4 linked regions of the Homo sapiens genome follow. The protein of the gene in region 1 purifies or fractionates together with the protein of each later gene. This does not show direct contact. Each region holds a gene or a part of one and is shown in the gene's direction. Other genes may lie near its edges.

Region 1 (2,971 bases):
TCCTTGTTGATCTTGTATGTTTTGCCTCTGGGCATTATATCATTTTCCTACACTCGCATTTGGAGTAAATTGAAGAACCATGTCAGTCCTGGAGCTGCAAATGACCACTACCATCAGCGAAGGCAAAAAACCACCAAAATGCTGGTGTGTGTGGTGGTGGTGTTTGCGGTCAGCTGGCTGCCTCTCCATGCCTTCCAGCTTGCCGTTGACATTGACAGCCAGGTCCTGGACCTGAAGGAGTACAAACTCATCTTCACAGTGTTCCACATCATCGCCATGTGCTCCACTTTTGCCAATCCCCTTCTCTATGGCTGGATGAACAGCAACTACAGAAAGGCTTTCCTCTCGGCCTTCCGCTGTGAGCAGCGGTTGGATGCCATTCACTCTGAGGTGTCCGTGACATTCAAGGCTAAAAAGAACCTGGAGGTCAGAAAGAACAGTGGCCCCAATGACTCTTTCACAGAGGCTACCAATGTCTAAGGAAGCTGTGGTGTGAAAATGTATGGATGAATTCTGACCAGAGCTATGAATCTGGTTGATGGCGGCTCACAAGTGAAAACTGATTTCCCATTTTAAAGAAGAAGTGGATCTAAATGGAAGCATCTGCTGTTTAATTCCTGGAAAACTGGCTGGGCAGAGCCTGTGTGAAAATACTGGAATTCAAAGATAAGGCAACAAAATGGTTTACTTAACAGTTGGTTGGGTAGTAGGTTGCATTATGAGTAAAAGCAGAGAGAAGTACTTTTGATTATTTTCCTGGAGTGAAGAAAACTTGAACAAGAAATTGGTATTATCAAAGCATTGCTGAGAGACGGTGGGAAAATAAGTTGACTTTCAAATCACGTTAGGACCTGGATTGAGGAGGTGTGCAGTTCGCTGCTCCCTGCTTGGCTTATGAAAACACCACTGAACAGAAATTTCTCCAGGGAGCCACAGGCTCTCCTTCATCGCATTTTGATTTTTTTGTTCATTCTCTAGACAAAATCCATCAGGGAATGCTGCAGGAAACGATTGCCAACTATACGAATGGCTTCGAGGAGATAAACTGAAATTTGCTATATAATTAATATTTTGGCAGATGATAGGGGAACTCCTCAACACTCAGTGGGCCAATTGTTCTTAAAACCAATTGCACGTTTGGTGAAAGTTTCTTCAACTCTGAATCAAAAGCTGAAATTCTCAGAATTACAGGAAATGCAAACCATCATTTAATTTCTAATTTCAAGTTACATCCGCTTTATGGAGATACTATTTAGATAACAAGAATACAACTTGATACTTTTATTGTTATACCTTTTTGAACATGTATGATTTCTGTTGTTATTCCTATTGGAGCTAAGTTTGTCTACACTAAAATTTAAATCAGACTAGAGAATAATTTTTGTGGCATGTTGTAACATTTCACAGTATTTACAAGCTATTTTTGCACAGGTACATAGCTCTCATGTATTTAAAGAACACTGCAGTGTTATTTTCTTTGAAATTCATCCTCCACGGACCCATTCATACTAAATAAAACAATGTAATTACATTAAAATGGACCTATCTGTAAGAGGTACTAAAAACACTGGATTCATTTCATCTTGCAAATGTTGTATTTCAAACCAGTTTCACATAAGTTATTTGTCTTCTTTTCAAAATAATTAGCTATATTTTTATATAATATGAATATATACATAAAAATTGTTTCTATAAATTGTAGAACATAGATGCTACAGTATTTTTTATTTAATTATATTATGAATAAAATTGTTATTTCAATAGTACCCAACCAAAGATGCTTAAAAACCTTCTATGTTCATAAAAAATAACAACTGAGATGTTAAAATAGTCATACGTCTTTAGATGCTATTAAAGTTTCATTAGTCATATTTTTGTAAATATGACAGAATTTGTGAATATATTTTTAAAGCAAAAAACTTCAACATGCATATGATATATAGTTACAACATTAATTTTATGAACTGGAGAGCTTTACTTTGTGGATATATTTAAAATTCATATTATAGCTCCTATTAAATTCCTTCCATGATAGATATAAAGGACTGGTTTTTAAGTGCACTGCACTTCTGGAATACTGAAAAAGAATGAAAACAATATGTTAGATTAGGTGTAAGACTTTAAGAAGCGAACAAAAAGTAATGTATATCTGTAATATATAATCAAATGATTCATTTTTCTGTTAGACTAGGCAAATTGTTCAAAAATAACCTTTTTGTCTTTTAAGTAGCAGTCACTTTGCTTAAGATGCTAATAGAAAACTGTGGTTAAAGATTTACCCTCCCTCTTGGTGAATTATTACACTGTAAGAAATGTATATGCTACTGTGTTACATGTTGTATTAGTAAATTATTAGAATCCAATTAATGATTCAATTAACATATATCTTATCCAATTCATTATGTCAATTCATTAATAAAATACCTTTTATGTAGAGGCTTTATGTTGCAATTAAAAAGTTGGGAAAATGAGAGAAATTGTGTGGAATTTTATATCAGAGTGCTTGTCTAAGACAAGGCAGTAAGACTAATGCAACTAAAAAAGAAAAATAAGGGCTGCTGTTCCACAGTTAGTCCAGCTCTCTTTCCATTCTGTACCTGAACCTGAGTCAATGGATCCACTCTTACGACTGCAATTACAATACATAATATGAGGATACGTGGATCTTCATTTTTCAGACAAGACCTTTCTTCTTAACTTCAATTCTGTATCTCTACCGGCCAATAGACCATGTCCACATGGGTGTCTCACCAGCAAATCAAATCTCAAACAGAACCTGCCATTTCAATGCACACCTCATCCCATCTCCCCTCCACGTTGTCTTCCCGTATTCTCTGTCTCAATCATGACACTACTATGTACCTATTTCCCAAAAGCCTTACATTTTGGAATCACCCTTTACAAGTCTCTTTATCGCATGTATCTAATTAATTCCCACATCTTGTTTTAATTCCTACGTGTTTCTTTAATC
Region 2 (3,500 bases), on another chromosome or scaffold:
AACCTCTGCCTCCTGGGTTCAGCCTCAGGAGTAGCTGGGATTATAGCCATGCGCCACTACACCTAGCTAATTTTGTATGTGTGTGTGTATTTTTAATAGAGACAGGGTTTCACCATGTTGGCCAGGCTGGTCTCGAACTCCTGACCTCAAGTGATCTGCCCCCCCTCAGCCTCCCACAGTGCTGGGATTACAGACATGAGCCACCGCACCCAGCCTTTATTATTATTTTTAAAATAGACTTGGGCTGAGGCAGGAGGATCCCCTGTGGCCAGGAGTTCAAGACCAGCCTGGGCAGCAGAGTGAGACCCCTGTCTCAAAAATAAAATAAAATGGCCAGTTGTGGTGGCTCACGCCTGTAATCCCAGCACTTTGGGAGGCTGAGGCGGGCGGATCACCTGAGGTCAGGAGTTCAAAACCAGCCTGGCCAACATGGTGAAACCCCATCTCTACTAAAAATACAGAAATTAGCCGGGCGTGGTGGTGCGCACCTGTAATCCCAGCTACTTGGGAGGCTGAGGCAGGAGAATCACTTGAACCTGGGAGGTGGAGGTTGCAGTGAGCCGAGATCACACCACTGCACTCCAGCCTGGGCAACAGGAGTGAAACTCCTTCTCAAAAAATAAAAAATAAATAAAATAAAATAAGACTATTTTGTAGAACACTTTGAGATTTATGGAACAATTGAGAAGACGATACAGAGTTTCCATATGCCCCATACCCAGTCTCCTCTATAGTTAATGTCTTCCATTCATATGATACATTTGTTGTAGTTAATGGGCCAGTATTGATATATTATTATTAACTAAAGTCCACCTTTCATTCAGATTTCCTTTGTTTTTTCCCAGTAACCTTCTTCCATCCCAGGATCCCACATGACATTTAGTCGTCATGTCTCCCTAACCTCCTCTGGGCTGTGACAGTTTCTCAGACTTTCCTTGCTTTTCGTGACCTTGACGTTTTTGTTTGTTTGGTTTGGTTTGGTTTTTGTTTTTTGTTTTTTGAGATGGAGTTTCGCTCTTGTTGCCCAGGGTGGAGTGCAATTGTGGTGCAGTCTCGGCTCACCACAACCTCTGCCTCCTGGGTTCAAGCGATTCTCCTGCCTCAGCCTCCCAAGTAGCTGGGATTGCAGGCATGTGCCACCACGCCCGGCTAATTTTGTATTTTTAGTAGAGACAGGGTTTCTCCATGTTGGTTAGGCTGGTCTCGAACCCCTGACCTCAGGCGATCTGCCTGCCTCAGCCTCCCGAAGTGCTGGGATTACAGGTGTGAGCCCCCATGCCCGGCCAACCTTGACGGTTTTGAGGAAGGTGGAGTAGGTGTTGTGTAGAATGTCCTCTAATACTGATCTGTCTGGTGTGTTTATTTTTTTTTTGGTTGGTTTTTTTTTGTTTTGTTTTGTTTTGTTTTTTGAGACGGAGTCTCGCTCTGTCACCCAGGCTGGAGTGCAGTCGTGCAATCTCGGCTCACTGCAACTTCCGCCTCCTGGGTTCATGCCATTCCCCTGCCTCAGCCTCCTGAGTAGCTCAGATTACAGGCATGTGCCACCACGCCCAGCAAATTTTTTTGTATCTTTAGTAGAGACAGGGTTTCATCATGTTGGCCAGGCTGGTCTCAAACTCCTGACCTCAAGTGATCCGCCGGCCTTGGCCTCCCAAAGTGCTGGGATTACAGGTGTCAGCCACCATGCCCAGCCACTCTGGTGTTTCTCATGGTTAGACTGGGGTCTTGGGGAGGAAGACCACAGGGGTGAAGGGTCCTTTCTGTCACATCCTATCAAGGGTACGTGTTAGCCACGTAACTTATCACTGTTGATGTTGACCTTGATCACCTGCCTAAGCGACATGGAAAGTTTCATCTTCATTTATTCAACAAACGTTTGTCGAGCATGTACTGAATGCCAGATAGTGCATTAGGGGCTTGGAATAGAGAATTAAGAAGAGAGGCTCTTGTCCTCAAATCGTGCATGACCCTAGGGCAGGCAGGCAGGCAGGTTTAGAAATAATTGCCATAGAATGTGCATTGGGCTTGGGTGTAGGCAGAGGGGTGGATGTTTTCAGGGAGAGAGAGGGGGAAAAGCGAGCCAGGATGCTGGAAGAAGGGAGGTTGACAGAGAAGTTTTCACAGAAAGAATGGCCAAACCGGCCAGGCACAGTCCCAGCACTTTGAGGAGCCGAGGCGGGAAGATTACTTGAACCCAGGAGGTCAAGTCTGCAGTGAACAGTGAGCTATGATCATACCAGTGCACTCCAGCCTGGGAGACAGAGCAAAACCCTGTCTCTAAAAAGAAAAAAAAAAAAATCCTTGGCCAGGCACGGTGGCTCACGCCTGTAATCTCAGAACTTTGGGAGGCCAATGCGGGCAGATCACAAGGTCAGGAGATCAAGACCATCCTGGGTAACACAGTGAAACCCCATCTCTACTAAAAAATACAAAAAATTAGCCAGGCGTGGCGGTGGGTGCCTGTAGTCCCAGCTACTCAGGAGGCTGAGGCAGGAGAATGGCGTGAACCCAGGAGGCGGAGCTTGCAGTGAGCCGAGATCGCGCCACTGCACTCCAGCCTGGGCGACAGAGCAAGACTCCATCCATCTAAAAAAAAAAAATCCAAACCGGGTCTTGGAGAATGCCCTTCCAGTCAGAGGGAACAGAGTATGCACAGACACTGGCAGACATCAGGAGACCCATGTGCCTGGAGGACTGAGTGTGCCAAGCAGGGATGCAGAAAGAGGCGAGGCTGGGAAGGGCATGCACGTCTTGCAAAGACATCTGGGCTCCATCTCACCATTGGGAGCTGCTAAAGGGTCTTAGGCAGGCAATGACGTGGCAAGAGCTGCAGTTCTGTATGGTTCTGGTGGCCCCATGGACAGAGCATCAGAAAGGACAGAAAGTTCAATGGACGTGGCAGGCGCCATCAAGACAGCAGCTTTGGTGGGGCACGGTGGCTCACACCTGTGATCCCAGCACTCTGGGAGGCTGAGGCAGGAGCATCACTTGAAGCCAGGAGTTCAAGAGCAGCCTGGGCAACATAGTGAGACCCCAAGTCTCCAAAATTAGAAAAATTGGCAAGGCATGGTGGCGAATATCTGTGGTCCCAGATACTCAGGAGGCTGAGGTGGGAGGATCACTTGAGGCCAGGATCTCGCACCACTGCACTCCAGCCTGGGAAACAGAGCAAGACCTTGTCTCTAAAAGCAACAACAACAACAAAAAGACAGCAGCTTCCAGCCTGGAGAGCAGAGGCCAGTTGGGAGTGAGGTGTGGGATGTGGGTGGTAGACTTGGCTGAGCTCTAGAACATGAGAAGGGAGGAGGGGAACACCCAGGCCTGGCCAGAGTGGGTGGGTGGAGGTGGCAGGTGGCACCGGGGACCCAGATAGATGCACCCGCAGTAGGACAAGGGGCCTGCTTCTGTCAGGAAAGCATTGAATTTGAAGAGCATCTCCGCATGAGGGGCCAGAAGGGTCTTTCTAAAATGCAAACCTAGGCCACGGGCAGTGGCTCACG
Region 3 (3,500 bases), on another chromosome or scaffold:
GGGCCGGATTCGGGTGGGGACCCAGCTCCGGGTGCTGGGCCCTGAGGACGACCTGGCTGGCATGTTCCTCCAGGTAGCGTTGCTGCTGCATGTGGGTCTCCACCTGCAGCCCCTCTTCCTGCGTGCAGCCTTCGCTGCCGCCTCGCACGCACAGCGGCCTTTACTTGCGTGACCGCCTGACCCAGGCACGCTGCACACGCACAGCGGCCTTTACACGCGTGACCGCCTGACCCTGGCACGCTGCTTTCACGTAACACCCCCATGCTCTCAGATGGAGGCTAGGCCAACATTGGGGAAGGGGGTCGCCCTGCATCCTCCCTGCCATCCTTGCACACCCCTCTGCGCGGGGCACCCGGTTTGATGTGTACAGAAGCTGAGGTTGCAGGTCTCGCCTGAGGTCTGGCTGTTGGAGCCGGGGATCCTGCAGGCCTCACCACCTCCTGATGGAGAGCCTGGTGGTCCCTGGGCAGGCTCTGGACACCTTTGTTCTCTGGGGCAGCTCCTGGGTGTTGGGGTCCCTCACTGCTTCACATCACAGGTCTCAAGGGCCCTGGGCCCCTCAGGCCACAAGGTGGGGGCTACGAATGAACAGGGACACGATGGGACGCGGTTCTGGCACGGAGCTGCACCGGGCGCTTAGCCTCTCCGCTGCGCTCCTCCTCCTTCTCCTCCGCTTCCTCCTGACACTGGCCTTCCCCGTTCCAGATTTTCCCGCTCAGCCCGGACCCTCGGTGGCAGAGCTCCAGTCCCCGCCCCGTGGCCCTCGCCCTGCAGCAGGCCCTGGGCCAGGAGCTGGCCCGCGTCGTCCAGGGCAGCCCCGAGGTGCCGGGCATCACGGTGCGTGTCCTGCAGGCCCTCGCCACCCTGCTCAGCTCCCCACACGGCGGTGCCCTGGTGATGTCCATGCACCGTAGCCACTTCCTGGCCTGCCCGCTGCTGCGCCAGCTCTGCCAGTACCAGGTACTTGGGCGTGGGCCTCTTGCGGGGGAGGAGGGCAGTGAGGGCTCTGCCTCCCGCAGGACGGCCCGGGTGTCCTGTGACTGCTCCTCTGTGGGTCTTGGGTCTCAGTTTCCAAGTGAGAAAGGACAGTGCCCCAGGGAGTGGCGGCAGGTCCCCTTTTTCCAGTGAACATTCCCCCGGGACGGGAGGTGGGGGCAGTGCGGCGTCCGCCTGTTTGCACCACCCAGGCTCGGCGCTCCTGCCTTGCTTTCCCCATCTGCTGGTACCTAGGACTGTGTTTTACTTGGTGTCTGTGTTTACTTTTTCCTTTGAACCGCGTGGGAGCCCTCACCAGCTGGGGGGTTTTGAAAGGGTCTCTGTGAGGTCGTCTGGGCCCGTGCAGGGGAGGCACCGTTTCAGACAGGAGGCGGGATGAGGTTGGCCCAGGCTCCAAGTGCCGGTCGCGGCAGGTCTCAGCAGCCTCACGGGCCCTGCTCTGGGCCTCGGGTGCCGGGTCCCCGTGTGTCCTCTGCCAGGGTAGCCACGTGCCACTTTGTCCCCGCAGCGCTGTGTGCCACAGGACACCGGCTTCTCCTCGCTCTTCCTGAAGGTGCTCCTGCAGATGCTGCAGTGGCTGGACAGCCCTGGCGTGGAGGGCGGGCCCCTGCGGGCACAGCTCAGGATGCTTGCCAGCCAGGCCTCAGCCGGGCGCAGGCTCAGTGATGGTGAGGACCGCGCCGGGCTGGCAGACGGCTGGGGGGCACTGGACAGGGGCTCACTCAGAGTGGCCAAGCTGCCTGGCACCCCGAGGCCTGGGCAGTGGCTTGGGGGGTGGGTACCCGCGTGGGCCCAGGGGAGCCCTTCTACCGTGGGGCCTCCCTGGATGGGATACACCGATGGGGTGAGGGCTGGAGCCACAGGGCACTCACACAGACCTCCCACAGTGCGAGGGGGGCTCCTGCGCCTGGCCGAGGCCCTGGCCTTCCGTCAGGACCTGGAGGTGGTCAGCTCCACCGTCCGTGCCGTCATCGCCACCCTGAGGTCTGGGGAGCAGTGCAGCGTGGAGCCGGACCTGATCAGCAAAGGTACCTTCCTGGCACCATCCTCTTGGGCCACGGCGGCCCTGGGAAGACCCAAACCTGAGGCTCCTTCTAGCTGCCCAGTGGGGGACGGACAGTGTCTGCTCAGCACTGTCCCCGGAAAGTGCCCACAGAGGTCCCCTCCCAGATGGCTCAGGGCGGGGCCTCTTGAGAATGAGTTGGAGCTTCCTCCTTGGGGGGCCCCTGATCACTGCTGCACCCAGCAAAGTGAGCCCCGGCCCCGGCCGCACTCTCCAGCCCCGGCCGCACTCTCCTCTCCGGCCCCGGCTGCACTCTCCTCTCTGGCTCCGGCTGGACTCTGCTCTTGTGTCCCACACATGCTCACCCCACACCCCACCCTGGCTAGCCCACACCCACTCAGCGGCCCCCACCCGACCTGGGAGTGACCCACATGTCTCTTTGTCCCTTGCGCAGTCCTCCAGGGGCTGATCGAGGTGAGGTCCCCCCACCTGGAGGAGCTGCTGACTGCATTCTTCTCTGCCACTGCGGATGCTGCCTCCCCGTTTCCAGCCTGTAAGCCCGTTGTGGTGGTGAGCTCCCTGCTGCTGCAGGAGGAGGAGCCCCTGGCTGGGGGGAAGCCGGGTGCGGACGGTGGCAGGTGAGCTGGGGTGCTGCACACGGCCAGGGTGGGCAGGCGGGTGGCACCAGCCCTTCCCTGAGCCACCTTCTCCCTGCAGCCTGGAGGCCGTGCGGCTGGGGCCCTCGTCAGGCCTCCTAGTGGACTGGCTGGAAATGCTGGACCCCGAGGTGGTCAGCAGCTGCCCCGACCTGCAGCTCAGGCTGCTCTTCTCCCGGAGGAAGGTGGGTGGCACCCAGCTTCAGCACGGGGACCCACCCCAGGGTAAAGGCTCTTCCTGACCTGAAGTGCAGCAGCCTTGGCCTGGGCGAGCCTTGCAGGGGCCCCAGCACCCCCCCTGCTCTCAGGCCATGTGTCCCTGTAGCAACCCAGAGGAAGGGTAGGTCCCCCAATGGCCCTAGCAGAACCCAGGCCAGGGTCACAGTCACCTGTGGACCAGCACTGTGACCAGCCAGATGTGGGGATGGGGTGGGTGGATGGGGTGGGGTCGGCCCTGCCAAACCCTGTAGATCATGTAGGGGCCTCCATCTTCCCAAAGGGAATGGGGCTGTGGCCAGGAGAAGGGAGGGCAGGTGCTGGGCTCCCCACATCCTCCAGGGAGGGACGGCCTCACCAGAGAGGCTGCATGGAGCCCCGGGCACCTCCGCTGTGTGGCATGGCTCCCGTGGGAAGGGGCGGGGAGATGCAGCGCAGCCACCAGGAGCGGCCCTCCAGCACCATGACGGGGCCGGTGTTACCGGCAGCACCCCAAGCCTCGGCTCTCTGAGTGGCTCATTGGGGAAGCTGTCAGCTGACTTCAGCAGAGCCTGCCATTGGCCCAGGTGAGGCCATCCGGGCTTCTTCCTCCCTCCCCAGGGCAAAGGTCAGGCCCAGGTGCCCTCGTT
Region 4 (3,500 bases), on another chromosome or scaffold:
CTTCAAACTAGTCTCATATGGCATAAAGAGAAATAGTGTATTCTCCTATTACATAAAATAGACAAAGCTTCCAGAACAGAATAATCTATAGCCAGTTATTATGGTTGTTAATCCTAATGATGTTAATAACTTACTTTTAGGCTATGCAGGAATTTGGAACCATGTGTACAGAGAGAGACACAGAAACTGTGAAAGGAGTTCTTCCATATTGGCCAAGAATTTTTTGCAAAATTTCACTTGTAAGTATTAAAACTTTGCTAGTTTATTTCTGTTGTATATTTTTTGGTTGGAGTCATGGAGACTCTCAAATTTATAATGTTGATTTTTGGTGAGGGTTATTAAATGTTATGTCAGCATTGTTATGCAGATTGAATTGTTAACACTTGAGAAGAGCGTGGAAATAAAAAAAGAGATTGGGGCCTGGTATGGTGGCTCATGCCTGTAATCCCAGCACTTTGGGAGGCTGAGGTGGGCAGATCACTTGAGGTCAGGAGTTTGAGACCAGCCTGGCCAACATGGTGAAACCCTGTCTCTACTAAAAATACAAAAATTAGCCGGGTGTGGTGATGGATGCCTGTAATCCCAGCTACTTGGGAGGCTGAGGCAGGAAAATCGCTTGAACCCGGTGGGGCGGAGGTTGCAGTGAGCCAAGATTGCACCACTGCACTCCAGCCTGGACAATAGAACAAGACAATGTCTTTAAAAAAAAAAAAAAAAAAGATTGGATTGTGTTGGGTTATGAAGAACATTTAGGAAGTCTGTTTTCAGAAATTAGGTTGTTACTGGAGAATTACCCAGGTGCTTTCCAGTTTTAATAAATTTTGATAGTGATTTTATTCCCTGTATATTTGCTGCAGAAGAATGAGAGTGAGTTGCTTAATTATTGAAGACCCAACTTTTTTTTTTTTTTTTTTAATTGAGACGGAGTCTCATTCTGTCACCCAGGCTGGAGTGCAGTGGCGCGATCTCTGTTCACTGCAACCTTGTCTCCTGGGTTCAAGTGATTCTCCTGCCTTAGCCTCCTGAGTAACTGGGATTACAGGTGTGTGCCACCATGCCCCGCTAATTTTTTGTATTTTTAGTAGAGACGGGGTTTCACCATGTTGGCCAGGCTGGTCTTGAACTCCTGACCGCCAATAATCCGCCTGCCTCGGCCACCGAAAGTACTGAGATTATAGGCACGAGCCACCAGGCTCGGCCTCAAGGCCCAACTTTGAATCTGTCTTGAATACAATCCTATCTCATTGGGAGAAGGGGAGAAAGAAAAATTAATAAATTATTTTACATAGTTTCTGATTTAAAAACCTCCAAATTATTGATTTAAAAAAAATGATTTCAGTTTAGCTTAATACATAGGTGAATTCTTGGTAATGGGTCATTATAGCATATCCGGAAATGTCTGTGATTGTTTTTATGGGCTAGAGCTATTTTAAATCACATTTATATTTTTAATAGGATCATGACCGTCGCGTCCGAGAAGCCACACAACAAGCTTTTGAAAAACTTATCCTTAAAGTAAAGAAACAGTTGGCTCCCTACTTAAAAAGTTTAATGGGATATTGGCTAATGGCTCAGTGTGATACTTACACACCAGCTGCGTTTGCAGCAAAAGATGCATTTGAAGCGGCTTTTCCTCCAAGCAAGCAACCTGAAGCCATAGCATTTTGTAAGGATGAAATTACAAGTGTAAGTTCTGGAATCATTCTGAATCTATTTTTTTTTTTTAAGTATTTAAGGGTTATAAGCATAATGACAGCTCTTTTACTTGGGATTGTAGGGGAATGAGTAAGTAGAGTATTTCCAACTGAAGGTTGCCTTTTTAAAATTCTGTTTAGTTAAATAACCATTTTGGATCTTTAACAAGATTAACATTTTGGATTGGATCTTTCTACAGTATTTAAATTTTCCATTTTAATTTTGAAGTCTTTATTATATTTTTAAAAAGTAGATGTTTTATGTAATCTAAACAAGTAATATATCTAAAAATAAATCTAAAATTATTTTCTCTCGTGTTTCCATATCAATATATATATATATACAGATCTAACTTAGTGTCTTTTTCTTTTTATTGGCTCTCTGGTATTACTATACATGGATGTACTGTAGTTTATTTAACTTTTTAGATTAATATACATTTGGATTTTTTTCCAATTTTTATCATAACAAATGCTATTTCAGTAAACATTCTTGAGTAGATCTCTTCATACCCTTGTGGGAGTGATACTTACTAGAACTTCTAGTAAGCATATGTTGGGCCAAAGAATAAGAACATTAAAATTTTTTATAATGATAAATGGCCCTTCAAAAGGCCAAACAAATTTATACTCCCATTTTCAGATAAAGTTTCTCCACACTGGGCTAACACTTTTGCCATAACTTTCTCATAAAAAGTTACCAGCCATACCTGTTTGTGGCTTTCAGTGTGTCTGTTTCTAGTAGTGTCTCATTTCTTCCCCCTTCATTTTCTATTCCCAATATATGGACTAGAAAAACCAGACAACAAAGTTGTTAGAATTATATTGAGAAATAAAAGTAGATGAAGTAGAAGTGAGGAGGGAATTGATAATTTTTTAAAAAATCTATGCTTGCATTTATTCCCTTATTTAGTACTCCTGTGTTTCCACAACACCCTGTGTATAACCCTACTTAAACATTTCCATCTGACCCTCTCCCCCTGCTTTCCTTCCTCCTTTCAATTAGCCATCCTTCCTGTGGCTCTCCATTACACTTTTAAGTTCAAATTTCTTGTCTTGACATACAAGGCTCTGCATGATCTGGTCCCTGCTTCCCTATCTAATCTCTTCACCCAGCACTCCCCAACACATAACTTGATTGTAGTACCTCATTTAGGTTCTTCCATTCTTCATTTCTCAGGTGTACCAAGCGTGTTTTTCTAGAGAGAGGGTTTGTAGCTTTAATCATATGCTCAAATGGAGTTTTCTAACCCATCTGTAGCATAAGAATCATTGGTTGATTTAAAATGCCAAGTTATAAACGTTACAAGAGTGAAGTGTCATGAGTTTGGACGCTAAGAGCTTTAGGAAATGGATTTTGAGACAACTAGTTTGGCTCTTCATAGGCTTTAGAAAATAAATTTGTTCTTGGCTTTGTCATGGATGGATAACTAATCATTGAACATTGGGTTATTTCTTCCATTTTATTTTCCCTTTAGTTGGCTATGTTACAGTTCATTACAGCTGTTGGCATTGAACTGTCTCCAGTTCCAAACCCATGTATTAGAGAGGAGTTAGGCAAATGAAAATCAAAATGTCAGCATTATAGATAGTATATCATACTGTCTATAAGACATGGGCTCTGGGTCACACCATTGGTTCTAGTCCCACTCTGCCATCAGCTAGCAACTAGGTGTGTGACCTTGGGCAAGTTTCTGTGCCTTCATTTCATAATCTATAAAGCAGGAATTAACTTGTACTTCATGGAGTTCTGAGGATTGATTTAGTTAATGCCTAAAATGTGCTCAAAGCAATACCTGGCACATG

Evidence for each region.
Region 2: the proteins of NPY2R (region 1) and EVI5L purify together in Homo sapiens (affinity purification with mass spectrometry; 2 studies listed by BioGRID and IntAct, with this or other methods). This does not show direct contact.
Region 3: the proteins of NPY2R (region 1) and INTS1 purify together in Homo sapiens (affinity purification with mass spectrometry; 2 studies listed by BioGRID and IntAct, with this or other methods). This does not show direct contact.
Region 4: the proteins of NPY2R (region 1) and LTN1 purify together in Homo sapiens (affinity purification with mass spectrometry; 2 studies listed by BioGRID and IntAct, with this or other methods). This does not show direct contact.

What each region holds. Positions count from the first base shown.
Region 1 is NC_000004.12:155,214,606-155,217,576, forward strand, and holds the end of NPY2R (neuropeptide Y receptor type 2), read left to right. Parts: coding exon 1-480; 3' UTR 481-2,471; downstream 2,472-2,971. UniProt on the Homo sapiens protein: Receptor for neuropeptide Y and peptide YY. The rank order of affinity of this receptor for pancreatic polypeptides is PYY > NPY > PYY (3-36) > NPY (2-36) > [Ile-31, Gln-34] PP > [Leu-31, Pro-34] NPY > PP, [Pro-34] PYY and NPY free acid.
Region 2 is NC_000019.10:7,836,718-7,840,217, forward strand, and holds part of EVI5L (EVI5-like protein), read left to right. Parts: intron 1-3,500. UniProt on the Homo sapiens protein: Functions as a GTPase-activating protein (GAP) with a broad specificity.
Region 3 is NC_000007.14:1,476,890-1,480,389, reverse strand, and holds part of INTS1 (integrator complex subunit 1), read left to right. Parts: coding exon 1-73; intron 74-705; coding exon 706-960; intron 961-1,504; coding exon 1,505-1,664; intron 1,665-1,883; coding exon 1,884-2,024; intron 2,025-2,453; coding exon 2,454-2,637; intron 2,638-2,716; coding exon 2,717-2,840; intron 2,841-3,471; coding exon 3,472-3,500. UniProt on the Homo sapiens protein: Component of the integrator complex, a multiprotein complex that terminates RNA polymerase II (Pol II) transcription in the promoter-proximal region of genes.
Region 4 is NC_000021.9:28,982,878-28,986,377, reverse strand, and holds part of LTN1 (E3 ubiquitin-protein ligase listerin), read left to right. Parts: intron 1-140; coding exon 141-239; intron 240-1,455; coding exon 1,456-1,686; intron 1,687-3,500.